Homo sapiens: one gene and its partners. The protein of the gene in region 1 purifies or fractionates together with the protein of each later gene. This does not show direct contact. Each region holds a gene or a part of one and is shown in the gene's direction. Other genes may lie near its edges.

What was found.
Region 2: the proteins of NQO1 (region 1) and POLDIP3 fractionate together in Homo sapiens (co-fractionation; one large-scale study listed by BioGRID). This does not show direct contact.
Region 3: the proteins of NQO1 (region 1) and CMBL fractionate together in Homo sapiens (co-fractionation; one large-scale study listed by BioGRID). This does not show direct contact.
Region 4: the proteins of NQO1 (region 1) and AKR1C3 fractionate together in Homo sapiens (co-fractionation; one large-scale study listed by BioGRID). This does not show direct contact.
Region 5: the proteins of NQO1 (region 1) and TKFC fractionate together in Homo sapiens (co-fractionation; one large-scale study listed by BioGRID). This does not show direct contact.
Region 6: the proteins of NQO1 (region 1) and LYPLAL1 fractionate together in Homo sapiens (co-fractionation; one large-scale study listed by BioGRID). This does not show direct contact.
Region 7: the proteins of NQO1 (region 1) and ANXA11 fractionate together in Homo sapiens (co-fractionation; one large-scale study listed by BioGRID). This does not show direct contact.

What each region holds. Positions count from the first base shown.
Region 1 is NC_000016.10:69,709,026-69,713,291, reverse strand, and holds the end of NQO1 (NAD(P)H dehydrogenase [quinone] 1), read left to right. Parts: intron 1-162; coding exon 163-264; intron 265-2,010; coding exon 2,011-2,316; 3' UTR 2,317-3,891; downstream 3,892-4,266. UniProt on the Homo sapiens protein: Flavin-containing quinone reductase that catalyzes two-electron reduction of quinones to hydroquinones using either NADH or NADPH as electron donors.
Region 2 is NC_000022.11:42,601,095-42,605,360, reverse strand, and holds part of POLDIP3 (polymerase delta-interacting protein 3), read left to right. Parts: intron 1-2,200; coding exon 2,201-2,591; intron 2,592-3,253; coding exon of another isoform or gene 3,254-3,304; coding exon 3,305-3,391; intron 3,392-4,266. UniProt on the Homo sapiens protein: Is involved in regulation of translation. Is preferentially associated with CBC-bound spliced mRNA-protein complexes during the pioneer round of mRNA translation. Contributes to enhanced translational efficiency of spliced over nonspliced mRNAs.
Region 3 is NC_000005.10:10,283,390-10,287,655, reverse strand, and holds part of CMBL (carboxymethylenebutenolidase homolog), read left to right. Parts: intron 1-1,159; coding exon 1,160-1,302; intron 1,303-4,266. UniProt on the Homo sapiens protein: Cysteine hydrolase. Can convert the prodrug olmesartan medoxomil into its pharmacologically active metabolite olmerstatan, an angiotensin receptor blocker, in liver and intestine. May also activate beta-lactam antibiotics faropenem medoxomil and lenampicillin.
Region 4 is NC_000010.11:5,097,189-5,101,454, forward strand, and holds part of AKR1C3 (aldo-keto reductase family 1 member C3), read left to right. Parts: intron 1-245; coding exon 246-362; coding exon of another isoform or gene 363-410; exon of another isoform or gene 411-988; intron 989-1,613; coding exon 1,614-1,691; intron 1,692-2,138; coding exon 2,139-2,261; intron 2,262-4,266. UniProt on the Homo sapiens protein: Cytosolic aldo-keto reductase that catalyzes the NADH and NADPH-dependent reduction of ketosteroids to hydroxysteroids.
Region 5 is NC_000011.10:61,336,059-61,340,324, forward strand, and holds part of TKFC (triokinase/FMN cyclase), read left to right. Parts: intron 1-145; exon of another isoform or gene 146-191; coding exon of another isoform or gene 192-332; intron 333-1,882; coding exon 1,883-2,072; intron 2,073-3,007; coding exon 3,008-3,118; intron 3,119-3,195; coding exon 3,196-3,377; intron 3,378-4,266.
Region 6 is NC_000001.11:219,194,206-219,198,471, forward strand, and holds part of LYPLAL1 (lysophospholipase-like protein 1), read left to right. Parts: intron 1-4,266.
Region 7 is NC_000010.11:80,171,038-80,175,303, reverse strand, and holds part of ANXA11 (annexin A11), read left to right. Parts: intron 1-2,434; 5' UTR 2,435-2,442; coding exon 2,443-2,497; exon of another isoform or gene 2,498-4,033; coding exon of another isoform or gene 4,034-4,266. UniProt on the Homo sapiens protein: Binds specifically to calcyclin in a calcium-dependent manner. Required for midbody formation and completion of the terminal phase of cytokinesis.

The sequences.
Region 1 (4,266 bases):
CAGAGTCATATTATGTAGCTCAGGGGAGCCAAAGTATGAAGTAATATAAACAGCAAATAGGACAGACTTGTGTGTTCTTTTCCCTGGAGCTGTTTCATTAACTTCTTGTCACCAAGGGGATGTGGAGGGAAGTGAAGTTTGTTATTGCTTTTTCTTTTGCAGAGTAAGAAGGCAGTGCTTTCCATCACCACTGGTGGCAGTGGCTCCATGTACTCTCTGCAAGGGATCCACGGGGACATGAATGTCATTCTCTGGCCAATTCAGGTACCTCATTTTCTTTTCTTTTCTTTTTTTTCTTTGAGACGGAGTCTCACTCTGTCATCTAGGCTGGAGTGCAGTGACACCATCTTAGTTCACTACAAGCTCCGCCCGCTGGGTTCGAGCAATTCTCCTGCCTCAGCCTACTGACAGGCACCCGCCACCACACTCGGCTAATTTTTGTATTTTTTAGTAGAGACGGGGTCTTGCCATGTTAGCCAGGCTGGTTTCAAACACTTGACCTCAAATGATTCTCCTGCCTCAGCCTCCCAAAGTGCTGTGATTACAGGCGTGAGCCACTGCACCTGGCCAGGTACCTCATTTTCAACGAACCTTCAGGGGAATTCATTCATTGAGCCTTCGTGGGGTTCAAAACCTCAAGATAGCATCTGAAAATAGATCTTGAGTTGTGAAGATGAAAGCATGGTCATAATTCAGAATGATGGGAGCCTCCTTTAAGAACCTGCCTGCCTTCCCAGGTGCCTGTGTGTGAACACACCTGCGTGTGCATGTGTTCAAACAGCATTCTGTCCCAGCCAAGGACTAGTGTGAATCACTACTCTTGATTTGTATAGCCGTGGGCCCTGGTCTCACCAGATGACTGACATCTCTCTCCAGCCTTCCTGTCCTTCTCCAGGTTGCTGATACAGTCCCATAGACTATTAGAGCCCAAGACAATTTAAGAAATGATTTACTGGGAGGCTGAGGCAGAAGGATCGCTTGAGCCCAGGACTTTGAGACCAGCCTGGGCAACATATAAGACCTCATCTCTACAAAAAAAAAAAACAAAATTAGCTGGGTGTAGTCATACACCTGTGGTCCCAGCTACTTGGGAGTCTAAAGTGAGAGACCCAGGAGTTCGAGGCTGCAATGAGCTATGATCACACCACTGCATGCCAGCCTGGGATACAGGGCGAGACCCTGTTTCGAAGAAAAAGGAAATAATTTAGTCCAGCCAGTTTATACATGGATAAAACTGAAGCCTGGGGTGGGCTTATTGGTGTTACCAAACCCTCAAGATAATTTCTATAAAGAGGGAGGTTGGAGAGAAGAGCCAGTGAGTGGCCACTTATGAAAATCATTTATCAAGACTCATCTGGGCCTGTAATCCCAGCACTTTGGGAGACTGAGGCAGGCGGATCACTTGAGGTCAGGAGTTCGAGACCAGCCTGGTCAACACAGTGAAACCCTGTCTCTACTAAAGATACAAAAATTATCTGGGCATGGTGGCGCATGCCTGTAATCCCAGCTACTCGGGAGGCTGAGGCAGGAGAACCGCTTGAACCCAGGAAGTGGAAGCCGCAATGAGCCGAGATCGTGCCATGGCACTCCAGCCTGGACGACCGAGCGAGACTCTGCCTCAAAAAAAAAAAAAAAAAGAAAAAGAAAAAAAGGACTCATCTAGTTATATGGAGAGGCAGAGAAATGCACCCACGCAGGTCTTGGTGAGTCACCTGCCAAGAAACTGAGACTCCCTAAAGTAACAGAACTTCCAGCCTTCTTGGCAAAGGATCCAGGTTGGCACAGTTTCAAGGTTTATGCATTTAAAGAAGAACACACCTGAGAAGGCTAAAATTGGTAACGGCTAGGTAGAGGGTAAGAGAGAGACGCTAGCTCTGAACTGATTCTCTAGTGTGCCTGAGGCCTCCTTATCAGAGTGTCTTACTGAGAAGCCCAGACCAACTTCTGTTGTTTATAGTACAACTGCATGGAATTGGTTGACTTACCTCTCTGTGCTTTCTGTATCCTCAGAGTGGCATTCTGCATTTCTGTGGCTTCCAAGTCTTAGAACCTCAACTGACATATAGCATTGGGCACACTCCAGCAGACGCCCGAATTCAAATCCTGGAAGGATGGAAGAAACGCCTGGAGAATATTTGGGATGAGACACCACTGTATTTTGCTCCAAGCAGCCTCTTTGACCTAAACTTCCAGGCAGGATTCTTAATGAAAAAAGAGGTACAGGATGAGGAGAAAAACAAGAAATTTGGCCTTTCTGTGGGCCATCACTTGGGCAAGTCCATCCCAACTGACAACCAGATCAAAGCTAGAAAATGAGATTCCTTAGCCTGGATTTCCTTCTAACATGTTATCAAATCTGGGTATCTTTCCAGGCTTCCCTGACTTGCTTTAGTTTTTAAGATTTGTGTTTTTCTTTTTCCACAAGGAATAAATGAGAGGGAATCGACTGTATTCGTGCATTTTTGGATCATTTTTAACTGATTCTTATGATTACTATCATGGCATATAACCAAAATCCGACTGGGCTCAAGAGGCCACTTAGGGAAAGATGTAGAAAGATGCTAGAAAAATGTTCTTTAAAGGCATCTACACAATTTAATTCCTCTTTTTAGGGCTAAAGTTTTAGGGTACAGTTTGGCTAGGTATCATTCAACTCTCCAATGTTCTATTAATCACCTCTCTGTAGTTTATGGCAGAAGGGAATTGCTCAGAGAAGGAAAAGACTGAATCTACCTGCCCTAAGGGACTTAACTTGTTTGGTAGTTAGCCATCTAATGCTTGTTTATGATATTTCTTGCTTTCAATTACAAAGCAGTTACTAATATGCCTAGCACAAGTACCACTCTTGGTCAGCTTTTGTTGTTTATATACAGTACACAGATACCTTGAAAGGAAGAGCTAATAAATCTCTTCTTTGCTGCAGTCATCTACTTTTTTTTTAATTAAAAAAAATTTTTTTTTGAAGCAGTCTTGCTCTGTTACCCAGGCTGGAGTGCAGTGGTGTGATCTCGGCTCACTGCAACCTCTGCCTCCCAGGTTCCAGCAATTCTCCTGCCTCAGCCTCCCTAGTAGCTGGGATGACAGGCGCCTGCCATCATGCCTGACTAATTTTTGTATTTTTAGTAGAGACGGCGTTTCACCATGTTGGCCAGGCTGGTCTCAAACTCCTGACCTCAGGTGATCCGCCTACCTCAGCCTCCCAAAGTGCTGGGATTACAGGCGTGATCCACCACACCTGGCCCTTGCAATCTTCTACTTTAAGGTTTGCAGAGATAAACCAATAAATCCACACCGTACATCTGCAATATGAATTCAAGAAAGGAAATAGTACCTTCAATACTTAAAAATAGTCTTCCACAAAAAATACTTTATTTCTGATCTATACAAATTTTCAGAAGGTTATTTTCTTTATCATTGCTAAACTGATGACTTACTATGGGATGGGGTCCAGTCCCATGACCTTGGGGTACAATTGTAAACCTAGAGTTTTATCAACTTTGGTGAACAGTTTTGGCATAATAGTCAATTTCTACTTCTGGAAGTCATCTCATTCCACTGTTGGTATTATATAATTCAAGGAGAATATGATAAAACACTGCCCTCTTGTGGTGCATTGAAAGAAGAGATGAGAAATGATGAAAAGGTTGCCTGAAAAATGGGAGACAGCCTCTTACTTGCCAAGAAAATGAAGGGATTGGACCGAGCTGGAAAACCTCCTTTACCAGATGCTGACTGGCACTGGTGGTTTTTGCTCTCGACAGTATCCACAATAGCTGACGGCTGGGTGTTTCAGTTTGAAAATATTTTGTTGCCTTCATCTTCACTGCAATTTTGTGTAAATTTCTCAAAGATCTGAATTAAATAAATAAAATTCATTTCTACAGACCCACACTCATTGGTATCAGTGAAGCTAATGATAGTGGAATCTAGTGGGAGGCAGATCAGAGGATTCAATCACAAACTGCAGCTGGAAGCCCCTTGGTGACTGGCTTGACAACTCACCCAGCAGGGCTGCTTCCTACTAAATGGTAATAGAACAACCTATTCAGTCCTCTCAGGGAATTCAAAGGAAAGAGAGTGGTATAGAAATCAAGAAAAACAGGCTGCGTGCAATGGCTCACGCCTGTAGTAATCCCAGCATTTTGGGAGGCAAAGGCGGGTGGATCACCTGAGGTCAGGAAACCCAGTCTCTACTAAAAACTTAAAAAATTAGCTGGGCGTGGTGGTGCGGGCCTGTAATCCCAGCTACTCAGGAGGCTGAGGCAG
Region 2 (4,266 bases), on another chromosome or scaffold:
GGTCAGGAGATCGACAGCATCCTGGCTAACACGGTGAAACCCCATCTTTACTAAAAATGCAAAAAATTAGCCGGCCGTGGTGGCGGGCGCCTGTAGTCCCAGCTACTTGGGAGGCTGGCGCAGGAGAATGGCATGAACCCGGGAGGCGGAGCTTGCGGTGAGCCAAGATTGCGCCACTGCACTCCAGCCTGGATGACAGAGCAAGACTCCATCTCAAACAAAACAAAACAAAACTGAAGAAAAGAAACTTCCTTGTCACAGAGAGTCTGGGAAGTCCAGGATCAGGATGCTGGCAGATTCCATGTCTGATGAGGGCCTGCCTGCTTCCTGGTTGTAGATGGTCTTTTTGCTGAGTCCTGACATGGTGGAAGGGGCCAAGGAGCTTTCTGGGGCTTCTTCCTTATAAAGGGCACTAATCCCATTTGTGAAGTCTCTGTCCTCATGACTTAATCACTTCCCAAAGGCCACCACCTTCTACCACCATCACATTGCAGATTAGGCTTCAACAGAGGAATTTTGGGGGGACACAGATGTTCAGTCTGTATTACCGCCTTAGGTTTGGTACTGGCATATTGGAGGCAGCAGGTGTTTTTCCATTATTTGAGGGATAACAAGATGAAGGTCCACGTTTGCTTTTATTGGTACCAGGTAGACTCACCTTTGGCTGCACTTCTGGTATTCATTAGCAGAGGAACTGACAGCCAATCTCACTCCAGCCACTGGAATGCAGCAGTGGGAGAGTGCCAGTGACTGACCCAGTATGAGAGATGCCTCCTGGGAGGTCCAGGCAGTGAAGTGGGAGGCAATACAGGAACTCGTTTATGCAGCAGAGTTTACCCTCTAACAGCAGGTCAGAGATCCTCAACATGGCTCTTCTCCAGAATCACCCATGGAGTTAAAAATGCAGATGGCCAGGCCTCGCCCCAGATTTTGGATTCAGCATCTAGGGTGGGATCTGGACAGCTCTGTATTTAAGAAGCTCCACAGGAGTTTCTGACACTCAGCCAGGGCTCGATGCTGCTTAGGAGGTGCTGGGCCCTGCAAAAGGACTGAACCCCATTCTCCTCCCCCCGCCCCACCCAGGGTAGGGAGAGAAAAAAGGAAACAAGCAGGTATAATAATAGGCACAGAGGAGAGTTGGCCTGGAGAAATCCGGGAGGGTTTCCCAAAGAGCACCCCTTGACATAGGAGTCCGCAGGCAGAGCGTCTGCCGCATGAGTGGCCGTTGAGGGTAGCTATTGTAGAGAGGCCTGAGGGTGGGAGGCGACAGAAGAAGCCCAAAGACCTTGGGGAGGATCTCCAGCGCTATACTCAGGAGGGCCTTCTGTTCACTTTCAAGCCACTGTAGGCCAACAGAGGAACCCAAGAAAGAGACCGGGGCCTGTTTATGGAGTTTCATTCATTTCCAGTTAAAAAAAATATTTTATTTTAAATTCAGGGGGTACATGTACATGTTTGTTCCATGGATTATATTGCATACTGGTGAGGATTAGGTTTCTAGTGTACCCATTACCCAAATAGCGAACCCTGTACCCGATCATTTCCAATTTCAGTGGTTTCTGTATTTGATATTTTTGCTATTGCAATTTTTTCTTTCTTTCCTACCAAGTCTTTGTGTTTTCTGTTTTCCTCTAGCTCTAAGCCAGACCCATATGTTTGCTCTCTTGGTCTTAGCCCAGTAGATGGTGTCTGCCTTCCTTAGAGACACTCTTTGTTAATCATTGAGCCTCTCCAAACCTGCTTCTCCCACTGTAAAGTGGGCATAGTAAGTACTTCTCAGGGTGCTGAGAGGGCTGAGTGAGAACATGGATGGGGATGGGCCTTGGAAACTAAAGTTACTCCTCAGATGAGTGGGATTAGATTTGGTGGATGTTTATTTTATTTGACTGGCATTGTTGGGAAGTTATTGTCCATGTTGGTGTCTCAAGACACGTGGTCTAGGAAGCAAAACACTCTTAACTAGGAATAAAACTTGCCAGCCCCTCTCTCTTAATTTTGCTTAAAATGCAAAGTTAAAAGCCATCATGAAACCAGGAAAGGAGTCATCATGTAGGCATAATCGTTTATTCAATCACAGGCAAGGAGCCGCTTTCTGATTCTCCAGGGCCTCCTCTGTCCCCAGTGTTACCACAGTTCCGCTTTCATAGACTGCTGTAGATACCCAGATCCACTTAATATTGATTGCAATTTATATTTACAGGCTTAATGCCAGACCGGGAGTTGGAGGTGTCCGATCTCGAGTTGGGATCCAGCAAGGCCTTCTCAGCCAGTCAACACGCACAGCCACCTTCCAGCAGAGATTTGATGCCCGGCAGAAGATTGGCCTCTCAGATGCCCGGCTCAAACTGGGAGTCAAGGATGCCCGGGAGAAGCTTTTGCAGAAAGATGCCCGATTTCGAATCAAAGGGAAAGTGCAGGATGCCAGAGAGATGTTGAACTCTCGCAAGCAGCAGACCACGGTGCCCCAGAAGCCCCGCCAGGTTGCTGATGCCCGGGAGAAGATCAGCTTGAAGAGGAGTTCCCCTGCTGCCTTCATAAACCCACCCATTGGGACAGTGACCCCTGCTCTGAAGCTCACCAAAACCATCCAGGTGAGTTGTGGCTTTTGTCATGAATTCCCAGAAAGCTAGTAACAAAGGTAGATTTAGAGGCAAGGTGCCAGGAGTGACTGGGCAAAAATACTATCCTCTCAAGTGTTGGCATAATACAGACTTTGCTCCTTACAGAGGCTTTAAGTACGTTATAGCCAAGGAACTATACAAGGAAGGAAAGGTATTATCTCAGTTCTAAAAAAAAAGAAAAAGGAGGCCCATAGAAATTTGGTGACTTTCCCAGGTGAGATACTGGTGGAAGAAAGAGAGAGGAAAGGACAAAAGATTTATTGAGCACATGCTATGTGGCAGGCCCTTAATATCTGTGACCTTACAGTCCTCACTCCACCCCCAGGCCCAGTGGGATTTGGCCCCTAGTCCAAGGCCCTGGCCACCCTTCACAGCTGCCACCACAGAGGGAAAGGAAACAATGTCATTTAACCTTCATAGCAGCTTTGGTAATAGGAACAGCAGCGGCCACAGCAAACATTTACTGAGCCAAGTCCATTAAGCCCTACATGTGCGTTACCGGCATGGTCTCTGGATTGATGATTCTTCTGTTACTTCCTACTGTGGAGGATAAGGCCCTCTGTAGTGCCTTTTACCAAAGACCAAAGCTGCATGCCCACCATGTATCAAGTTCAGTAACCCCCTTCTTCTAGAGAATGCATGTGGACCCTGTGGGGTGGATTCTGACCACTGAGTGTTTCCAGGTTCCACAGCAGAAAGCCATGGCACCACTTCATCCCCATCCTGCCGGAATGAGAATCAATGTTGTCAATAACCACCAGGCCAAACAGGTAGAGTGAGTGAGTGAGAGAGAGAGAGAGAATCTGTGTGTACATAGCGAACATGTAGGTGTGCACGTGTTTTGATGAGGCCTACTTGGGTGGATGGACTGAGGCTTGCTCAGTTGGTAGTTCCCAGTTGGTAGTATTGGAGGCAGGGTTACAGCGAACTTTTTGCAATTTGAGTTTAAAGAAGAAATTTTTTTTATTTTTTTATTTTTTGAGACGGAGTCTCGCTCTGTCGCTAGGCTGGAGTGCAGTGGCGTAATCTCGGCTCACTGCAACCTCTGCCTCCCGGGTTCAAGTGATTCTCCTGCCTCAGCCTCCTGAGTATCTGGGACTACAGGCGCGTACCACCACACCCAGCTAATTTTTGTATTTTTAGTAGAGATGGGGTTTCACCATGTTGGCTAGGATGGTCTCAATTTCTTGACCTTGTGATCCCCCCGCCTCAGCCTCCCAAAGTGCTGGGATTACAGGCGTGAGCCACCACACCCAGCCAAGAAGAAACTTCTTAATAGAGGAAGGGAGGCATAGGGGGCAGAGAGGCTAAAAAAAGTTTTGTTTGTTTTTTTTAATTTTTTTACGCTTTTTTTTTTTTTGTCTTTTGTTTTGTTTTTTTTTCCTTTTTCTGGAGAACGGGGTCTCGCTATATTGCCCAGGCAGGTCTCGAACTCCTGGGCTCAAGCTATCCTCCCGCCTCTTAGCCTCCCTGAGAGCTGGGATTACAGGTGTGAGCCACCGCGCCCGGCCTAATTTTTTTAAATAAAAGTTCTATGTGCTTAATATAGAAAACTTGCCAAAAAGTCCCTCAAGTTCCTATTCTCCAAAGCCAGTCACTGTTGAAATTTTGCCATAGTTCCTTACATGTACGCTTCTTTTTTTTT
Region 3 (4,266 bases), on another chromosome or scaffold:
ACTGCACCCAGCGGGGATAGCATTCTTTATGTGATGATGATCAATATCAAACAATATTTTTATGAGCACCATCTATGAAAATAGAGATTTTAGTGCATCTGTCACCGAGTAGTGTACAGTTTACCTAATATATAGTTTTTTGGCCCTCACACCCTCCCACCCTCCCCCTTCTGAGTCTCCATAGTCCATTATATCACTCTATGTGCCTCTGTGAATCTACTCATAGCTTAGCTTCCACTTATAAGTGAGAACATACAGTATTTGGTTTTCCATTCCTGAGTTACTTCCCTTAGAGAAATGACCTCCAGCTCCATCCAAGTTGCTGCAAAAGATATTATTTTGTTCTTTCTTATGGCTGAGTATAGTCTATGGTGTATATAGGCCACATTTTCTTTATCCACTCATTGGTCAATGGGCGCTTCGGTTGCATATCTTTGCAATCGTGCTACAATAAACATACGTGTGCAGCCCACCTCCACTTTGGTACATTGCTTCTAGTTGAAAATGTATTCTGAGTTCCAAACAATCAGTTTGCACATGAATCATTTGCCAGACAAGGGCCACTATTCTTGGTCCCCTCATGGCTGAAATAGTCCTGATGGCGTTCCAAATTTGGCTTCACTGGGCGGCAGGGGGAGGAGACGAGCAATGCAGAGTGGGGAGTTTTGGGGAGAGAGTGAACGTGTGAAGTCAGAGAGTGTCTGGGCGTCTGCCCATAGTTATGGCTGCTCATGGGAGAGAGGAGAGAGGAGACTCTTCTCCTGGGAGACTCAGGGGACAGAGAAGACTGGGGCACTCTGCAGGGAGCAGATCATGGACTCGGGTCTTACGAACCGTGCTGTGGGCTGTGGCCTTCATCCCCAGGCTGTGGAAGACTGCTCAGCTCTCAGCTGGGAGTGAGGCAGTTGGACCTATGTTTTGGGAAGAGCCCAGCTTGCCTGCAGCTGTCAGGCAGTTGGAGGAGGGCTGGGCTTGGCAGGAAGATGTGCTGGGATGATGCATCAGTTGGGCCAGAGGTAGTAAGGGTGGAGCTCCCAAAAGAAGAAACCTTGGCAACTTCAAAAACAGTTGCTGATACAGCCCTGTTATCATCAGCACAGCTCTTTGAGGGGTTCACAAAATAAGCCTGATTCTTGAATATTTTTTCTTTCTGTTCTAGAGAGATCAGTGCTATCTTGAAGTATCTGAAACAACAGTGTCATGCCCAGAAAATTGGCATCGTGGGATTCTGCTGGGGTGGAACTGCTGTCCATCATTTGATGATGAAATACTCAGAATTCAGGGCAGGGGTGTCCGTCTATGGTAAATCTGCCTTGTGCATTTTTACTCCATGCAGAAGGGAGGGGTGGAAGAGTGACAACAATCACAAGCCTCCCCATCCAGTGTAACACAACCCCCAATAATGTGAAGACTGCCCATCTTATGGAAATGGGTTTTAAGAATCTGAAAATAGAGGTGGAGGTTTGTCATGCAGTTAACCAGAGGATGTCACCGGGAGTCAAGAGGTCTGGGTCCCAGTGGTGTGACTTTGGGAAAGCCACCTAATCTAAATTCTCCATTTCTTCACCTAGGATGAAGGGGATAGCTTTTTTTGTTTTTTTAATGTAATGATGATCAATATCACACAAGATTTTTATGAGCAACATCTATGAAAATATTTTTCTGGTGGTGGCTAATGCCTGTAATCCCAACACTTTGGGAGGCTTAGGCAGGCAGATCACTTGAGCTCAGGAGTTCGAGACCAGCCTGGACAACATGGCAAAACCCTGTCTCTACAAAAAATACAAAAATTAGCTGGGCGTGGTCACGTGCACCTGTAGTCCTAGCTACTCCGGAGGCTGAGGTGGGAAAATCGCTTGAGCCCAAGAAGGTCAAGGCTGCAGTGAGCCATGATCATGCCGCTGCACTCCAGCCTGGGTGACAGAGCAAGACCCTGTCTCAAAAAAAAAAAAAAAGAAAAAGAAAGAGAAAGAAAGAAAGAAAGACTGATTTTTCCAAGATACAAATTGCTCTAACTGTACACAAACATGCACACACACTAAGAAAGAAAGCAAAGGCAGCCAGATGCGATGACTCACGCCTGTAATCCTAGCACTTTGGGAGTCCAAGATGGGCAGATGGCTTGAGCCCAGGAGTTCGAGACCAGCCTAAGCAACATAGAGAGACCTTGTCTCTATAAAAAATTTTAAGGCTGGGCGTGGTGGCTCACGCCTATAATCCCAGCACTTTGGGAGGCCGAGGTGGGTGGCTCATGAGGTCAATAGTTCGAGACCAGCCTGGCCAATATGGTGAAACCCCGTCTCTACTAAAAATACAAAAATTAGCTGGGCGTGGTGGTGGGCGCCTGTAGTCCCAGATATTCAGGAGGCTGAGGCAGGAGAATCGCTTGAACCCGGGAGGTGGAGGTTGCTGTGAACCAAGATTGTGCCACTGCACTCCAACCCAGGCAACAGAGTGAGACTCTGTCAAAAGAAAAAGAAAAAAATTACTTGGGTGTACTGGCACATGCCTGTGGTCCCAGCCTCTCAGGAGGCTGAGGCAGGAGAATCACTTGAGCCCAGAAGTTTGAGGCTGCAGTGAGCTGTGAATGCACCACTGCACTCCAACCTGGATGACAGGGAGTGAGACCTTGTCTCTTAAAATAAAAAATAAAAAAAAAAAAGGAAAGAAAGCCAAGGAAAACACACTCTAAAATCGAAATAGCAATTTATACATTTTTGGCCAAAACAAACCAAAGTTACTACAGCAATGAAATAACATTATATCTGTATATAGAAACTGCTTGCTAAATTCATGATATAGAAGCATTCAGACCAATAGATAAACGAAAACAAAAAAGACACATAGGAAATATAGCCTTTAAAAATAATGCAGATGCTCCTCTACTTACAATGGGGCTAAGTCTTGATAAACCCATCATAAATGGAAAATATCTCAAGTCGAAAATGCATTTAATCCACCTCACCTACCAAGCATCATAGCCTCACCTGGCCGACCCGAAACACCTGCATCAGGCTACAGTTGGGCAAAATCATCTAACGCAAGGCCTATTTTATAATAAAGTCTTGAATGTCTCATGCAGTTTATTGAATTCTGTACTGAAAGTGAAAAACAGAATGGTTGTCTGGGTACTTGGGGAACAGTTTCTACTGAATGAGTGTCGCTTGTGCACCATTGTAAAGTCAAAAAATGAAAGTGGAACCATCGTTAGGCCTGGGACCATCTGAAGTGGATCATAAAGTTATACTAATGATTCCTTCTTGGGTTAATGGTTCCTCATTGTGGTATTTTCAACTACTTTTAGAGTTAAAAACGCCTTTAAATATTGACTTAGGACAACACAAAAGGACATAAACTCAAAAGGCAGTGGCCAGCTGCCTCTGGGAACAATGGAGCTGAGAGATGCTTTGTCCAGACCATGCTTTTGCGCGATTTAGCAAAAGGCGGTCGGGAGTGGATGCCTCCCCGGCGCCACCTTCTGGCCGCTGTTGTGTAGTGCGTGAGCTGCAGAGCGTGGCCGGGCTCAGGCCCAGGGATATCAAAAGAGGCCCATCCACATGAAGTAGCTTTGCTAGAGTGGGGAAGGGAGCGTGGTCACCTTTCCCGTGGCTCCCTGCCTCCTGAAGAGGAGTTACAGGTGAAGGAGGCTCTCTCTGTTACTTAGCTCTTCTGCTGCCAGCAGGAAGTGGAAAAAAGTTATGTTATTTACGTCTTCTTATCTTAAAATGGTTAACTTGCTGCAAATCTTTTACTTACTTATTTTCGCATAGAAGTGGACACACCCACAGGTTGTTTTCAGACAACCTGGGTCAGGCAGAGCATGCTTCTAATTTCAGAATTAATCTCGAATGAATGCTGAGATGAAAGATGAAAACTATTGTTATTATTTTTTGAGACAGCATCTTGTTCTGTCACCCAGGCTGGAGTGCAGTGGCACGATCTTGGCTCACTGAACCTCCACCTCCTGGGTCCAAGCAATTCTCCTGTCTCAGCCTCCTGAGTAGCTGGGGCTACAACACCCAGCTAATTTTGTATTTTTAGTAGAGACAAGGTTTTGCGTGGGTGGCCAGGCTGGTCTCGAACTCCTGACCTCAAGTGATCCACCCCGCCTTGGCCTCCCAAAGTGCTGGGATTACAGGTGTGAGCCACCTCGCCCGGCCAAAAACTGATTTTTATAGACTGACCTGCTAGGCCCAGGCAGTTTCACACTTCCACACTTCCACACTCGTGGTCTGGTGCGAGTCTAAATACCCACTCAAAAGACAG
Region 4 (4,266 bases), on another chromosome or scaffold:
CTAATCTTTACATTTTAAGAATTTACTCCTATCATTCAGTAGATGTACAAACTATACATCCAACGTATAATAAAGTTTATAAGGATAGGTCAGAGCCAAAGGAATCATGAGAAGGAAGAGAATATGTTTGCCAGTGGTCATAAATTTTGAAGCAGTAGGAAAATATCTAAATACTAGATGGCACAAAGTAATAAGATTTGCTCAAGCATTCATTCAAAATCACCTCCATTCTTTAACCTCTGCAGCTTTGGTCCACTTTTCATCGACCAGAGTTGGTCCGACCAGCCTTGGAAAACTCACTGAAGAAAGCTCAATTGGACTATGTTGACCTCTATCTTATTCATTCTCCAATGTCTCTAAAGGTATGCAGTTTGTATGAGCATAAAATTGCGCTTCTGCTGTCATTATAAACATTGTTTATCTGGATAGTTGAACAGAGCTTTTTATTAGGAGGATGTAGGGATTATCACACAGAAGAAGAACCGTAAGTGGAACACCTAATTTCCTTTCTTTCGAGTAAATTTTGAATCCTACTTCTCTAATGCACACCTACAAGAGAAGAGAGTACAGCAACCTCAAAGCCTCTTCCTCAAAAACTTGAAATTACAATAGTCTCTTTCAAGGCACTGTCTTAGTTGTGGCTTTTGAGTCCATCTCTTGGGATGTTCCCAGACACAGAGTTTCATGCAGTTGTGGTGCCCAATAAAACTGCTGCACATGTGATGCACAATGAGTTTCCACCATCTCTCCCCATTTCAAGCTGAAGCAGATTTGGTGGAAGCCACTATGCATGGTTCTTAAATTAGAAACCCTTAATGTGGACTTGCAAAGCTTTATTATTCTGCTGCCTCTTCTTTCACAATAGAGTTTGAAGCTGTATTTAGCCAGGAATTACTGTGTAGTGTATAACTTTTGATTTAAAGTTACAGAAAACTACTCAGGCTAGTTAATGCAAAAGAGTTTACTGAGTTATGTAAAATGGGAAGTCAAAGACATGGCTACATTTAAGGATATGAAATAGTCTACAAAAATGTATCATTTGTCTATTCTTATCTCTAAACTCCAACACTTTTTTTTATTATTGTTGACCCAAACTTTTTCATTGGTGGCGATTATGGCTTTGGAGCAGCTCAAGGCTCATGGTCATCACCATAAGACAACTCCTCTGGGTCTCCCAACTTCTGCTGACCCTATGTGATTCACAGTCCTGCCCAAAGACTATCAACTCTTCAGGTGGTCTGATAATCCTACCGTGTACAAGAGTACAATCCATTATTTTTGGATATCAAGGTATTTCCAAATCAAAGAGAGGTACTTCAATAGAGGAAATTATAAGGGCGGAATAAAGTGACATAAGTCAACTGTGAAACTTGATTAAGACCTAGAAAATGGTCCTTTTCCATGCATATAATATTTGTAAGAGATTAGAGGAAGCCTGTCTCCTGAATACATTCCTTATACCTTCATATGTAAAACACTTAGCACATATCACTTTCTGGAGCATTGTACCACCTGTCTCATGGAGGATTAGTGTCCTTAAAGGTACCTGGGGTTACAGCTATGAGTGGAGAAATTAATTTGTGACATCATTAAAATGACTGCTTCTATTTCAGCCAGGTGAGGAACTTTCACCAACAGATGAAAATGGAAAAGTAATATTTGACATAGTGGATCTCTGTACCACCTGGGAGGTGAGTGCTTGGCGGAGAGGACACAGAGAAGGATGACAAAAAGAGAAAATCTGTTTCCCAGGTTCAATAGGAAAGAATGGAATATGCACCATTAGATCTAGAAATTCAGAAACTTTACAAGAGTAGCTTTGGTGAGATGAAGGGAAAAACACAAAAGGAATGTTTAGAGAGTGGGGCACAAGACTTGGGGGCAAGGAGGACAGGAATCTCTTTCCTTGCTTGTGCATTAATCTATCCAGTTTCCTAAGGAAGAGATAGAAATTCTTACTCTTGCTGCCTCTATCTTCTTCCCCTATTTGCTGTTTGAATTTTTCTTTTTTTGACAATCACTGCTAGCTATTTTCATTGTCATACTTTGAAAGTTGTTGCTCTCACAGTTCTGTCTTGCATTTACCGTGATTTGCAGCCAACTGCACAAATAATTCCTCACAACCCCTTTCTCCACAGGCCATGGAGAAGTGTAAGGATGCAGGATTGGCCAAGTCCATTGGGGTGTCAAACTTCAACCGCAGGCAGCTGGAGATGATCCTCAACAAGCCAGGACTCAAGTACAAGCCTGTCTGCAACCAGGTGAGCTCCCTTGGCCTTCTCTCCTTTCGGTTCTTCATGCCCCCTCTTCCTGTCCTATTGCCAAATATCTGTTTGTTTTGTCCCAGTTATCTTTGTGAAGTAGAAGATTATCTAGAGAGCAAAGCTTCTGTCAAGAAAGGCGTGAAGATTTCTTGTTTGTACCCTGCTTGGAAAAGTATTAGGGAAAAATTGGAATGAGTTTAATGCTGAATCGTGTGTAATATTTAGGGGAGGTCCATTTGATCAGGGAGGCCTGGAATCATCAATTAGAACTCAAGGAAAGGTGGACTTACCTCTAAGCTATGAAAGATGACCAGAAAGTGCATGGGTGAAGGTGATTTGGAGGGAATGGTGTATAGATATGAAGCTAGGAAAAGATGAAATGAGCTGTACGTGAACAGAGAGTTAGAATAAGAGAAGAGAGGTGCTAGGGGTTTACATGGAATTTGGATGTCTGAATGCCTCTTCTTGATGTTTCAACAATTCTTGACCAGGGGCATAGATATACTAAAAATTAGCTGCAGACAATGAAAGTCATCCATGTCAGAAAGAGAAAAATTAGGCCGGGTGCAGTGGCTTACGCCTGTAATCCCAGCACTTTGGGAGGCAAAGGCAGGTGGATCACCTGAGGTTGGGAGTTTGAGACCAGCCTGACCAACATGGAGAAAGCCCATCTCTACTAAAAATACAAAAAATTAGCTGAGTTTGGTGGCACACGCCTGTAATCCCAGCTACTTGGGAGGCTGAGGCAGGAGAATCGCTTGAACCCAGGAGGCAGAGATTGCGGTGAGCCGAGGTCACGCCATTGCACTCCAGCCTGGGCAACAAGAGTGAAACTCCGTCTCAAAAAAAAAGAGAAAAATTACCTGTTTATGGAGGTAACTGTTCACAGTGGATGAAATCAACACTGAGGAACTTTAGCAGAACATAGACCTGACCTATCACTGCCCATGTCTTAGTCTGCTACTTCTCTTTGGGGTCTGTCATCCAATCAGTTGTTTAAACACATCTATTCTATGCATGGTTTTTTCATAGCTTAGGGATAAGTCCTTTTTTCCCCCTGAGTTATTGTTAATGATTCCAGGCCTCCTTGATCAAATTGACTTCCCCCAAATGTCACAAAAAAATTCAAAATTAAAGTCACTCTACCTTTTTGCTAATTTACACTTTTTTATTCTTTTATACAACTTAGAGCCAATGAGTAAAGATCTACCATTGAAATGTGAAGTGTATAAAATTTGTGAATTTGGCCTAATGATACAGTTCCATCATATCCAAATAGAAACATTAAGAAAATGCAGTTTTAATATTAGTCCTTCAATTTTTTATTATGATAATTTTCAAACTTTCAGAAAATTTGATAAAAATAATACACGATTCAACATAACCATTTATATTCAAAATTGTTAACACTTTGCCACATTGCCAAATATTTATGGCAAATGTTTATGTGGGTATATCTGCATAAATACATATAATATTTTCAAAATCTCTTTAAAATAAATTGGAAAGATGACAATTCACCTCTATAGACCTAAATAAAGTATGTCACAGAAATGAAGACATTCTTCCAGCTACAGTATAATTATTGTATCTAAGGAAACGAACTGCAATGCCCTCATGTCGTTTAACATCCAGTCTATATTTGAATTTCCCACTGTTTAATGGAAATGTCTTTTATAGTGCTCCCTTTTAAAACAGAATGGAAACAAGTTGTGAGCTGATCTGTTCTTTATAATCATAGGTTTCCCATTCAGCAATTACTTATAATCCACTGGGTGATAATTCCTAACAGAAGAAGTCATATTCCATGACAAATTTTCACATATGATTGTGTAAACATCACTAATACTTTTGTATTTAATGGTTATTTATTATTGTATTTATTATTTTTTGGAGTTTTTAGATAATCATTTTCAATTTTAAAACCTTATTTAACTATTCTTACGTGACATTTTACTATGAAAAAAAATCCTTCACCAAATCAAAATGAAGAACAAATATT
Region 5 (4,266 bases), on another chromosome or scaffold:
TCTGGGATTATAGGCATGAGCTACCACACCCGGCCTGTTGGGAAGATTAAATGAGACATGCTCAAAAACACTTAGAACTGGGCCTGGCTCTTAGTCACTGCTCAGCAAATGGAACCAATCTTATTGTTCTTCTTGCTCCCTACAGACCTAGGCTACTCTGAAGCAGGTGGCTTAGCCCTGGCCCTGGCTGGATGCAGGACAGGTTGGCAGGGAGGCAGCAGAGCCAAATTTTGTACAAAGGAGCTGGTGCTAGCAAGCTCAGGAAGAAGCCACAGCCGGAAGTTCACCTTGCCAGGACCTGGCTCAGCTGCAGGTTCCCACCGGGCCACCAGGTGGCGGTGGGAGCCCAGCCCTCTGAGTCCACGTTGGGCCCCAGTCTCACTCTGTCTTCAGGACAAAGCCAGGGGCTGCAGCCCTTGTTCAGCAGACTCTGGCTTTTCACAGCCTGTTTGAAAAAGGGAGTAGCTTCATTTGATTGAGTTTCCACTATATCATGGGCATATACTCTGTTCTAGTAAATCCCTATTTTACAGAGGAAGAATTTTAGCTCCCGACAATGATGTATCTTCCCTGAGTTCCTGCAGCTAATGAGAGGCAGAAGTGGGATTTGAACCCAAGTCCCTGTAACAGCAGAGCTCAAGCCACACTCCATTCTGGCCCCCACGCTACTCACTTCTGTCTGCACCCTGTATCCACTCAGCCAAGCCTGGCGGCACTGCTCTGTAACCCTCCACCAGCCTGTCCACAACCCCTCCTGAGGCTGCCTGTGGCCAGTCCTCTCCTCCCCACCCCTTCCTGCTGGTCACCCGTGCTTCCTGGCACCACCACACTATTCACTCATCCAGGCCTTGGCTTATGCTCCCCCTCTGGCTGGAAGAGCCTCCCTTTTCCCTCCTCCCATGTCTCCTGCCCCCTTTTTCCCTACCCCGGTCCTGCTTATCCTTCCCAGAGACCTCCAGGCCCCTCGGGAGGCTGCGGCCCCTCCTCTATGCTCCCATGGTGCACGTGCGCTCCTCGTGTAGCAGTGCCCACTACACATGGCTGTGACCTCTGCTGTGTTTCCACTGAGGGCAGGAACAGCATTGTTATCTCTTTTTTTATTTCCGAGATGGAGTCTCACTCTGTCACCTAGGCTGGAGTGCAGTGGCACGATGACAGCTTACTGCAGCCATGACCTCCCAGGTTCAAGTGATCCTCCCACCTCAGCCTTCCGACTAGTGGGACTCCAGGCATGCACCACCATGCCTGGATCATTTTTCATATTTTTTGTAGAGATGGAGTCTCATCATGTTGCCCAGGCCGGTCTCAAAGTCTTGGACTCAGGCGATCTGCCTGCCTCAGCCTCCCAAAGTGCTGGGATTACAGGCATGAGCCACTGCACCTGAGCTGTTATCTCTACACATAGTGTCTAGTGCTGGGCCTGGCATACCAAGAGGCTGGGGAAATGTTTGCCCCGCGTTGGAGCACCAGGGAGCAGCGGTGGCTGTGGAACCTGCTCAGCTCCTCCCCCAGCATAGGAGCCTCAGCCTGAGGCTTTTCTTCCTTTTGACAGAAGAAGGTGTTGGGCCCCAGTTTTATTAAAATATTTTACACTGCAGGCAACCACTCCCCCATTTTCTTTGTATTGCAGCCATTTTTTCAGAATAAATTGAAGGTATGGTGCAAGACACTTCATAAATTAGGTACTGAATAGAAAGTCACACATTACTGAAAACTCACAGAAATACCCACCTAAGATGTCGCCCAACTCAAGGAAGTCCTGTGCTCCTGGAGTTCCTAGGTGGATGCGGGAGAGGGGTCTACACCACAGCAGTGTGGCTGCGCAGGATGGGGGTATCTGTACTGACCACATTCTGACCTCCTTCTCACTCCTCCCTTGCAGACCTCCAAGAAGCTGGTGAACTCGGTGGCTGGCTGTGCTGATGACGCTCTTGCTGGCCTGGTGGCCTGCAACCCCAACCTGCAGCTCCTGCAGGGCCACCGCGTGGCCCTCCGTTCTGACCTGGACAGCCTCAAGGGCCGGGTGGCACTGCTGTCGGGTGGGGGCTCTGGCCATGAGCCTGCCCATGCTGGTGAGTATCCTGGGGTGGGGCAGGGGGTACTAGTGGAGTGGACAGGGCCTCCTGGGGGATCCTTAGTGCTGCCATGAAGTGCAGGATGGAGCTCAGCCCAGAATCAGGAACTGGGGTACTTCCCACTCTCCCACTCCCTCCGGCTGGGATCAGGGGCCCATCACGGCCTCTCTGAATCTGTTTCTACATCTACAAATCTACGAAGTTGGGCCAAACAATCTCTCAAGTCCTTCTAGCTCTGAGAGTCGGTGATTCCATGAATCTTCTGGACCCTCCAAGCCCAGCAGACCCACCCCGATTCCATGAAGGCTTCCTGACTCTTCCAGCCTACAGCAGCACCCCTCTTCTGAATTCCCACCTGCTGTGTCCCACTTGTGGACTGTCCTGGCTTCTTTCCTGTGTGGAGCCAGGGACGCAGACTCTCCTTGAGGGCTGCTGGAGGGCAGGGACTAGGATGCGCGTCATTTCTCTGCTTCCTGTCTTCCTTCAGCAAAATCCATTCATTTGGCAAACACTCATGAGCCCACTGTGTACCTGGCGCTGTACTGGGCACTAGGGATACCAGACAGGCAAGGTCCCTGCCCTCGTGGAGCTTATATTCTACTTAGGGGAGACAGACAATAACCAAGTAAACACGAAAGTAAATGAGATCATTTCAGAGGGTGCTAAGTGACTTAGTAAAGACAGTAAAATGGGGCAAAGGAACAGTGAGTCCCTGGGGAGGGAGCTGGTGACTGCTTCAGGCTGGGAGGTCACAGAAGGCCTCTCTAAGATGCCTCCTAAGAAGGAGTCAGCCATGTGAAGACCTGGGGGATCTTTGAGCACCAAGCACACAGTAGGGCTCACCAAACCATGACCCCCGGAGTGTGGGAAGCCCCAGTGACTACAGGCGCGAGTCCCACCCAGCATGCTCACTCCACTCCTTCCACCTCCAGGTTTCATAGGGAAGGGGATGCTGACTGGGGTCATCGCGGGAGCTGTGTTCACCTCCCCGGCAGTGGGCAGCATCCTGGCAGCCATCAGGGCCGTGGCCCAGGCCGGCACAGGTAAGCCTGGCATGCAGGAGGGGCTGCGGCAGGGAGGGCACAGTAAGCACACTGAGCCCTTCCGGCTGCTCCCGCAGTGGGGACGCTCCTTATCGTGAAGAACTACACTGGGGATCGGCTCAACTTCGGCCTGGCCCGGGAGCAGGCCCGGGCTGAAGGCATCCCGGTGGAGATGGTGGTGATTGGGGACGACAGCGCCTTCACTGTCCTGAAGAAGGCAGGCCGGCGGGGGCTGTGCGGCACGGTGCTTATACACAAGGTGGGCTTCCACCGGGGACGTGGAGACTGGCCAGCCCTTTCCAGCCTTCCCTTGCCTGGCAGCACCCAGTAACTGGACCTTTCCAGCCCTTCCCCAAGAAGCTAGTTCTTTTTCTCCAGTGTTCCCTGATCTCAGAAGGCCCCGCCATCCCCTCAGCTACCTAAGCCCAGATACAGGCATTTTCCCAGACTCGTCCCCTTTTCTTCTCCACACCCAATCAGTTGCCCGGTCCTGGTGCTTCTCCTCCCAAATGTACAACACACATCCTTCTCAGACCCCGCCCTCCTGCTTTGCCTTGGTTCAGGGGTCATCTACTCATGCCTGATGGCTGCAGCCACCTCCTCACTGGGCTCCCCTGCCTGCTTCCTGCCTTCTGGCCTTGCTCATCCATTCTCCACACTACTGCCAGAGGTGTCTTTTTAAAATGTGTATCTGACTAGGTTATTCATCCACTGAAAGCCTTCTTGGGTGCCTACAATCAATACAAGCCCTCACCATAGCTCCCTGACTCCCCACCTTCATCTCCCATCATCCCTGCCTTCCTCTTTTTTTTATTTTCTTTTATTTATTTTTTATTTATTTATTTATTTTTTGAGGCAGAGTCTCACTCTGTTGCCCAGGCTGGAATGCAGTGGCGCGATCTTGGCTCACTGCAGTCTCCGCTGCCCAGGTTTAAGTGATTCTCCTTCCTCAGCCTCCCGAGTAGCTGGGATTACAAGGCGCCTGCCACCACGCCCGGCTAATTTTTGTATTTTTAGTAGAGATGTGGTTTCACCATGTTGGCCAGGCTGGCCTCGAACTCCTGACCTCAAGTGATCTGCCCGCCTCGGCCTCCCAAAGTGCTGGGATGACGAGCGTGAGCCACCGCGCCCAGCCATCCCTGCCTTCC
Region 6 (4,266 bases), on another chromosome or scaffold:
GTTTAACTCTATATTTCTGTGTTTCCATGTTTAACGTTGATGTTTAACTCTAATAGAGATAAACATGGAGCATTATGGGAGGACTAGGAAGAGTGTAGGGAAGGGATTCCCAACTTAGTCTAGGGGATTATGAAGTAGTTAGAAGATAGAATTCCAAACATGTGAATCATGTATCATTCAGTCATCATTCAATCTTTAGCAAGTATTTTTTAAGTCCCCACTATGTGCTACGCATTATTATAGATGTTCACGGGGATGTGCAGATAAGTAAAGCAAGATCTATCTGCCTTACATATTTCTTACAACCTGAAAGGGCCAATGAGATTCTTAAAGTGGTAACTATAATGCCAGCCAGGCTGTGATGAGTGCTCTAATGTGGTATAACTAATAGCTTTTCAAAGCCAATGATAGTATATATTTCTTTTTATTTCCCAGAACCTATCACAATGCCTGGCACAGAGCAAATACTCAGGAAATCTATAACAAATAACATTACCCAATCAATAAATTGTCAGTACTGTAGGAATTGAGAGGAAGAAGTAGTCACATGCATTTGGGGCTGTAAGAGAAAGATTTAATAGAAAGATGGCAGTGGCATTTAAGATGCACAAATTATTAAAATTTTAACTATTACAGTGTAGAAGTCTAGGTAGAGGGAATGATTTGTACAGTAAAGTAGAAGTGGACAGAGTAATGCTTTTTGTTTTTGTCTGTCTGGACAGTAGTTGGCTGTAACAAAGTTTGTGTCTAACTAAAAAGTACCTGTTGACTCAGATAGCCACAGTAAGAGACTAGAACGTGATGGCATAATGGTGACAAAAATGAGTTCAAATCTACAGTCCACCACTTCCTAGTTGGCTCACCACTTATTACCTACACTTAATTTTTGCTACCTAATCTGTAAAGTGGAAATAATAATATAATATCTGTTTACTGAGAGATGAACAAACTATTTGGTTTCTTCCAGACTCTCAGTAAATACTCTGTTCAGTTTTTAATCCTTTATTTTGTAGGTATAATAACATGTAATAATTGGTAAAGGATCATTAAATAATGTCTTCAAGTCATAAGAATTGTACTTTGAAAAACTAATTTGGCAGAAGGGGTAAGTAAAAGGATGAGAAGTCTGACATGGAGAAACCAGTATAATATAATGAAAGTCTGAAGTGGTGTGGTGGCAATAGGAAAAGAAAAGATCAGGATGAGAAATTGCTTTAAAAAATAAAAGTACATTCTTCATAAGCAAAAAAATAGATAAAAGGAGAAAATACTCTGAGTAGTACTCTTAATGAGTGTGTATTGAAGAGTTTATCACACTGAATGGTAACTGCTGTCCATTTGTCTCTTGCCCCATCCTCTCTCTTCCTTTCCCAGATCCATTACTTTATCTAGTTCATCTTTGAGTACTAGAGATATTATGGATTTTCTGCAGTATATTACATTTTAAAGAATCCTAGTACAACAAAATCAAATCTTTTAAAAATTTTAATTTTATTTTAAGTTCCAGGATACATGTGCAGGACATGCAGGTTTGTTACATAGGTAAACATGTGTCATGGTGTTTTGCTATACCTATTAACCTATCACCTAGGTATTAAGACCTGTATTCATTAGCTGTTTATCCTGATGCTCTCCCTCTCACCGCCTCCCTGACAGGCCCCAGTGTGTGTTATTTGCCTCTCTGTGTCCATGTGTTCTCATGGTTCAGCTTCCAACATGCAGTGTTTGGTTTTCTGTTCCTGTGTTAGTTTGCTGAGGATAATGGCTTCCAGCTCCATCCTTGTCCCTGCAAAAGACATGATCTTGTTCCTTTTTATGGCTGCATAGTATTCTATGGTGTACATGTACCACATTTTCTTTACCCAGTCTGTCATTGATGGGCGTTTGGATTGATTCATGTCTGCTATTGTGAATACTGCTGCAGTGGACATATGTGTGCATGTATCTTTATAATAGAATGATTTATATTCCTTTGGGTGTATACCCAGTAATGAAATTGCTGGGTCAGATGGTATTTCCGGTTCTAGGTCTTTGAGGAATTGCCACACTGTCTTCCACAATCCTTGAACTAATTAACATTTTCATCAACAGTGTAAAAGTGTTCCTGTTTCTCCACAGCCTTGCCAGCATATTAAAAATTCAAAATTCAAAAATTCTTGAATTTTTAATAATTGCCACTCAGACTGGTATGAAATGGCATCTCATTGTGATTTTGATTTGCAGCTCTCTAATGATAAGTGATGTTGAGCTTTTTTTCATGTTTTTTGGCTGCATAAGTGTATTCTTTTGAGAAATGTCTGAAGAGTCATTTATGACAAACCCACAGCCAGTATCATACTGAATGGACAAAAGCTGTAACCATTCCCCTTGAAATCCAGCTCAAGACAAAGATGCTCTCTCTCACCACTTCTATTCAACATAGTATTGGGAGTTCTGGCTGGGGCAATCAGGCAAGAAAAAGAAATAAAAAGTGTGTTCAAATAGGAAGAGAAGAAGTCAAACTGTGTCTATTTGCAAATGACATGATCCAATATCTAGAAAACTCTATCGTTTCAGCCCCAAAGCTTCTTAAGTGGATAAGCAACTTAAGGAAAGTCTCAGGATACAAAATCAATATGTAGAAATCACAAGCATTCCTATACACCAACAGTAGGCAAGCAGAGAGCTAAATCATGAATGAACTCCCATGCACAATTGCTACAAAGAGAATAAAATACTTAGGAATACAAAGGACTTCCTCAAGGAGAACTACAAACCACTGCTCAAGGAAATAAGAGAGGACATAAACAAATGGAGAAACATTCTATGCTCATGGATAGGAAGAATCAATATCATGAAAATGGCCATACTACCCGAAGTAATTTATAGATTCAATGCTATGCCCATTAAACTACCATTGACATTCTTCACAGAATTAGAAAAAACTACTTTAAAATTGGAACCAAAAAAGAGCCCATATAGCCAAGATAGTCCTAAGCAAAAAGGACAAAGGTGGAGGCATCATGCTACCCAACTTCAAACTATACTACAAGGCTACAGTAACCAAACAGCATGGCACTGGTACAAAAACAGACACATAGACCAATGGAACAGAATAGAGATCTCAGAAATAAGACCTCACATCTACAACCATCTGATCTTCAACAAATCTGACAAAAACAAACAGTGGGGAAAGGATTCCCTATTTAATAAATGGTGCTGAGTAAACTGGCTAGCCATATGCAGAAAATTGAAACTGGACCCCTTACTTACACCTTATACAAAAACTAACTCAAGATGGATTAAAGACTGAAATGTAAAACCAAAAATTATAAAAACCCTAGAAGTAAATCTAGGCAATACCATTCACAACATAGACATGGGCAAAGATTTTATGATGAAAATTTCAAAAGCAATAGCAACAAAAGCAGAAGTTGACAGATGGTATCTAATAAACTAAAGCACTTCTGCACAGCAAAAGAAGCTGTCATCAGAGTGAACAGACAGCCTACAGAATGGGAGAAAATTTTTGCGATCTATCCATCTGACCAAGGTCTAATATCCAGAATCTACAAGGAACTTAAACAAATTTACAAGAAAAAGAAAACCCCATTAAAAGGTGGGCAAAGTACATGAACAGATGCTTCTCAAAGCAGAAACAAATCTTAAATGAAGTTAAACACACATATAAAAACAGTAGCAGGAGAGGTTACCTGTTTGAGCACCTATATTTTCTTAGAGGGAATCATGTCTTACCAGCCAGATTGCCCATAAACCTCAAAAAAAGTCACCTGGGAGAAAAATATAACACAAGACTTGATTTTTCAATGTCTGTAAGCCCCCTCAAACCCCAAACTTGGGGCTCACTGAATGAAGATAATTTGTTTTTCCATTTTCTTCTTGAGAAAAAGATGATTTTTAAAAATCAGTGCCTTTGATATATTTTCAAAGTCCGACAATGTGATTGATTAAATCAAGTCTCTTGTTGAATTTTTCTAATGCTCCAGGGTAGTTTTCTGATTGACAGCATATACAGAAGTATTTCAGCATTCATTGTAGAAAAGCTAGCAGAAATGACCAGTCAATTATAGGCACCAAAAAAGAAAAAAAACTATTATTAAACATTTTAAGTAGAATAGCTTATAATATATGCATATATGTACATATTATATATGCTATATATAATCCAGTTTTCATGGGTGATATAAAAACTATCAGAAATGTTTTTAAAGTATAGTTTAGAATTAATTTTGACATAAAAATTTACAGTAATTAAGATTTTATCAT
Region 7 (4,266 bases), on another chromosome or scaffold:
TCACCTGTCGGGCAGTTCCTTCTATTAGAAGGTTCCTGGCCTACTGGTCATTTACATCCCCCAGATTACCTCCTCACCAGTGAAGTCTGAGGGTTTGGCAGAGTCTGGGCAGAAGGGTCAGGCTGGGGCCGGGACGGGGAGGGCTTTGTACTGACAGCCCACCCAGCCTCAGGGACACCCTCTCTGAAGGTGATGCCACCGGGGACCTCATCCACCACGTGCTTAGGGGCTCAGAGAGACCGAAAACTGCAAGGAGTAGGTCCTTGGTCCACACTACAGGGAGCCAATTCCAGCTTTCTCCAAAGCCATAGGGCTTTGCCTACGGTCACCTCTGGACCCACTGACCCAAACAAATGACTACACCCGTAGGGCTGAAAACCAGGCCCACCCTATGGGGACCGGTGGTACCTTAAGGAAGTTCTTTAGCTTCCTTAAAAACAGCATGTAGGCTGGGCACAGTGGCTCATGCCTGTAATCCCAGCACTGTGGGAGGCCGCAGCGGGCAGATCACTTGAGGCCAGGAGTTCAGACCAGCCTGGCCAACATGGCGAAACTCCATCTCTACTAAAAATACAAAAATTAGCCAGGGATGGTTGCGCCCTCCTGTTGGAGGCTGAGGCACAAGAATCCCTTGATCCCAGGAGGCGGAGGTTACAGTGAGCTGAGCTCGCACCACTGCACTCCAGCCTGGGTGATAGAGTGAGACGCTGTTTAAAAAATAAAAGTAGGCCAGGCATGGTGGCTCATGCCTGTAATCTTAACACTTTGGGAAGCCGAGGCAGGCAGATCACCTGAGGTCAGGAGTTCGAGACCAGCCTGGCCAACATGGTGAAACCCTGTCTCTGCTAAAAATACAAAAATTAGCCAGACATGATGGCGGGCGCCTGTAATCCTAGCTACTTGGGAGGCTGAGGCAGGAGAATCACTTGAACCCAGGAGGCAGAGGTTGCAGTGAGCCGAGATCACACCATTGCACTCCAGCCTGGGTTACAGAGTGAGACCCTGTCTCAAAAAAATAAAAATAAATAATAAAAAAACTTAAAAAGAACAGCATATACCAGCCTCGGCAACATAGTAAGACTCTCAAAAAAAAAAATTAGCTGTGTGTGGTGGCACATGTCTTTAGGAGGCTGAGGCGGGAGGATTACCTGAGCCCAGGAGGTCCAGGCTGCAGTGAGCCATGATTGTGCCAGTGCACTCCAGTCTGGGTGACAGAGCGAGACCCTGTCTCAAACAAACAAAACCCAATATGCCCAGTTCTTCAAGATAGATATGAAGGGCAGCTAGACTCTTATAGTTGGATAGCGTGGCTAGAACAGTGGTCTTCAAAGTGAGTTCCCTGGACCAGTAACATCATCTGGAAACTTGTTCCAAATGCAAAAACTGGTTCCACTGTCTCAGAAACTCTTGGTGGTGGAGCCCAGCAATGTGTTTTAACAATCCCATCAGGTGATTCTGATATGCATTGCAGCGTGAAACCCAGTGTGTAAAAAGAAGCCACATACTCGAGACGAGCAGGTGTGATTGTTGAGGGACCCTGCAGGTTTCCTCACATGTCCGCCTGCCATTGGGTGTCTCTGCAGACTGCAGCAGCAGCTGCTATTAGCAAGAGCAGGCAGGTTGCACAATGTGGCTGGTGTCACAGCAGATCTGTGTCCCTCCTCACAATTTAACTGGCAGGGGACATTGCCAAGGGATCCGTGTTCAGAGGGACTTCGTGAGAGCAGGTGTCTCACCTGGCACCTGTCCAGGCTGCTCTTCCTCCCTTACTGACAGATCTGCAAATCACTTACTTCTCTTAATCAGCAGCCTCTACTGCAGAAACAGGGTGATGCTGCCTCATTTGCCCTGGTTCTTCACCCTGCATCAGATGAACCTCCTGAGGGCCCTTTTTGCTTCTAGGAACGATGATTCCATACCTTACCAGGTCCCCTTGCCTGATGAACCAGAGGTTGGAGAATGAAGAGAGACAGGGGCCTCTGACTTCCCCTGTTGCTGGAGGGATGGCAATAAGGACACAGGAAGATAAATAGACAGACCTGGAGTCCTGAGAATGAGGCAGTGCGTCTCTACCTCTGAGGTGGGAGAACAGGCCCAGAGGCGCACTGCACCCTTGCCAGCAGAGGCAGGAGCAAAGCTTCAGTGAGAGGGCCTTTCAAGGAAACTGGCTCATGGGGAGTGAATCCTGTCACTGTGGGTGGGGCCGGGGGTGTGGCCCTGGCCCAGAAGTCAGGCAGCATGCTGGTGGGTACTGTTTCTAGCTGGAGGCACCAGCAGGAGACAGTGAACTGGTCTGCGACAAGCAGGGCAGATGCAGCAGTTTCTTCTGCAGGGTCCCAGTTGTGGTGGTGGCTGCCCTTTCAAGAAGCTGGGTCCCACGGGCCAGCAGGGGCTCTCAGGCAGAGCCTGAATGTGCTTTCGTCTTCTCTTCCAGATCTAACCATGAGCTACCCTGGCTATCCCCCGCCCCCAGGTGGCTACCCACCAGCTGCACCAGGTAAGAGGGTCTGGGGTGGGGAGGAGAGTGAATGCTGCCTCTGTACAGTGGCTGGGAGTGGAGAGGGGAGAACAGTAGTTTCCTCACTCCCCTCCTCCCCTCACAGCACGGCCCAGCAGGGGAGGAGAGGACAACAGGAGTAGTGGGACAGCCAGCCGAGGCAGGGGCTGGAGAAGAGCATGACACTAAGGCCATCGGAGGCCTAGGTTTGAAACTGCCTCCAGAAAGCCCTGGACCAGGCCCAGGGCTGGGTCTCTTGCCTTACTCTCTAGTAACAGTGGGCAAATGCTGTCACTTTGAGACTCAGTTTTCTTCTCCGCAAAATTGCTTCAAGGATTTCTCCCTCATTAGGTGGTCCTGGATACTGATGAGATAGGCAGGCAGAGCGACACGGTGTCCTCCAAAGCATTGCTAGGTGATGGTTGCCCCTTACCACCTCTCCTACCCTCTGCTCAAGGTGTGTGGGTTTGCAGCAACAAGATCCCCCTTGCCAAGAGAGGAAGTGGAGGCAGATGCTAAGGGTCAAAGGTCACTCCCTGTTTTCTGCAGGAGCTGTGGGTAGTCACATGGAGAAGTCGTCTTCTCTGGCCCTGGCCCCTTTTGGTCCTCAAATGAGATTTGGTCCCCACTGTGGGAAAGGAAATATGAGGGCTCATGAGACCAAGGGGAGAAAAGGGTCATTCCAAGGCTGGTCATCCTGAGGGTGCCTGAGCCGCTGCCCCTCTCCCCAGGGGACTCCTAGGCATCATTGATTTCTTTGGAGCTGAGGTCCTGTGGTTTGAACACCCCAGACCTGCAGGCCATTTACCTTCCCTCCCATTCAGCAGGTGAAGAACAGACTCAGACCTAGAGGTGGCTCAGCTGCTGTCCCAGGGCATGTTAGGGGCTGAGCTGGGCCACTGCCCTCTGAATGAGCCCACCCCAGGTTGGCTGGCACTGGCCTGGGTTCTCTCTCTATAGTAGAAATCCTGCCATCCAGATCCTGCCACTGCCACCTTTGCTAGCACAGCTGAGCAGCCTCTGAGCAGCAAGAGAGGAGGAGGCAGGAAATTTAGGGAAGGTTCTTCCTGGAGGGTCTGGAGCCCTGGAGATGAAGAGCCGATCCGAAGCTGCCATGTAGAGGAAAGCATCTAACAGGCCAGAGGCCCCATGATGATGTCGAATGCCCATCGGGCACCCAGCTGAGCCCTGCAGGTGTTAACTCAGTCTTCGTCACAGCAGTCTAGGCATACACTCACCATTAGCCCATTTGTAAGCTGAGGAAACAAGCCTAAGGAGGGTGAAAGCCTTGCCCCAGGGCACATACCGGTCCTGCTGGTTTCAGAGCGGGCTTTTCACCTCTGTTTCTTCCTGTCCTCTTGTGGACTGGTATCTGTGTTTACCATGACCCAGCCCCATGTCCCTCCAGCCTCTTATCCTGCTTCTCCCTGCCTTTTACAGACTTGTAATAGCAAACAGCCAAACCCCCTCCCGCCAGTGCCTTCGCATTACTGAAATCTCAGAGCTCCCTATGGTCACCTCTGTCATGGGCTCAGCATGGTGTCCCACAACAGTCTGTCCTTGTCTGTCCTCCTGCTCCATGATGGTGAACTTGGGAGGGCAGAGCCTGCCTGGGCTCTCCCAGCCTCCTTAATACCCCACAGAGGGTCTTGGGAGTGTTTGGGGAACTCCACCTTCCTCCCTGGGAAGAGGGGAAGGTTTCCCCTCCTCTGCCAGTGGGATAGGGGGAGACTTTCCTCCTGGTGTTTTCATGTGGTCTGTGGTGTCCC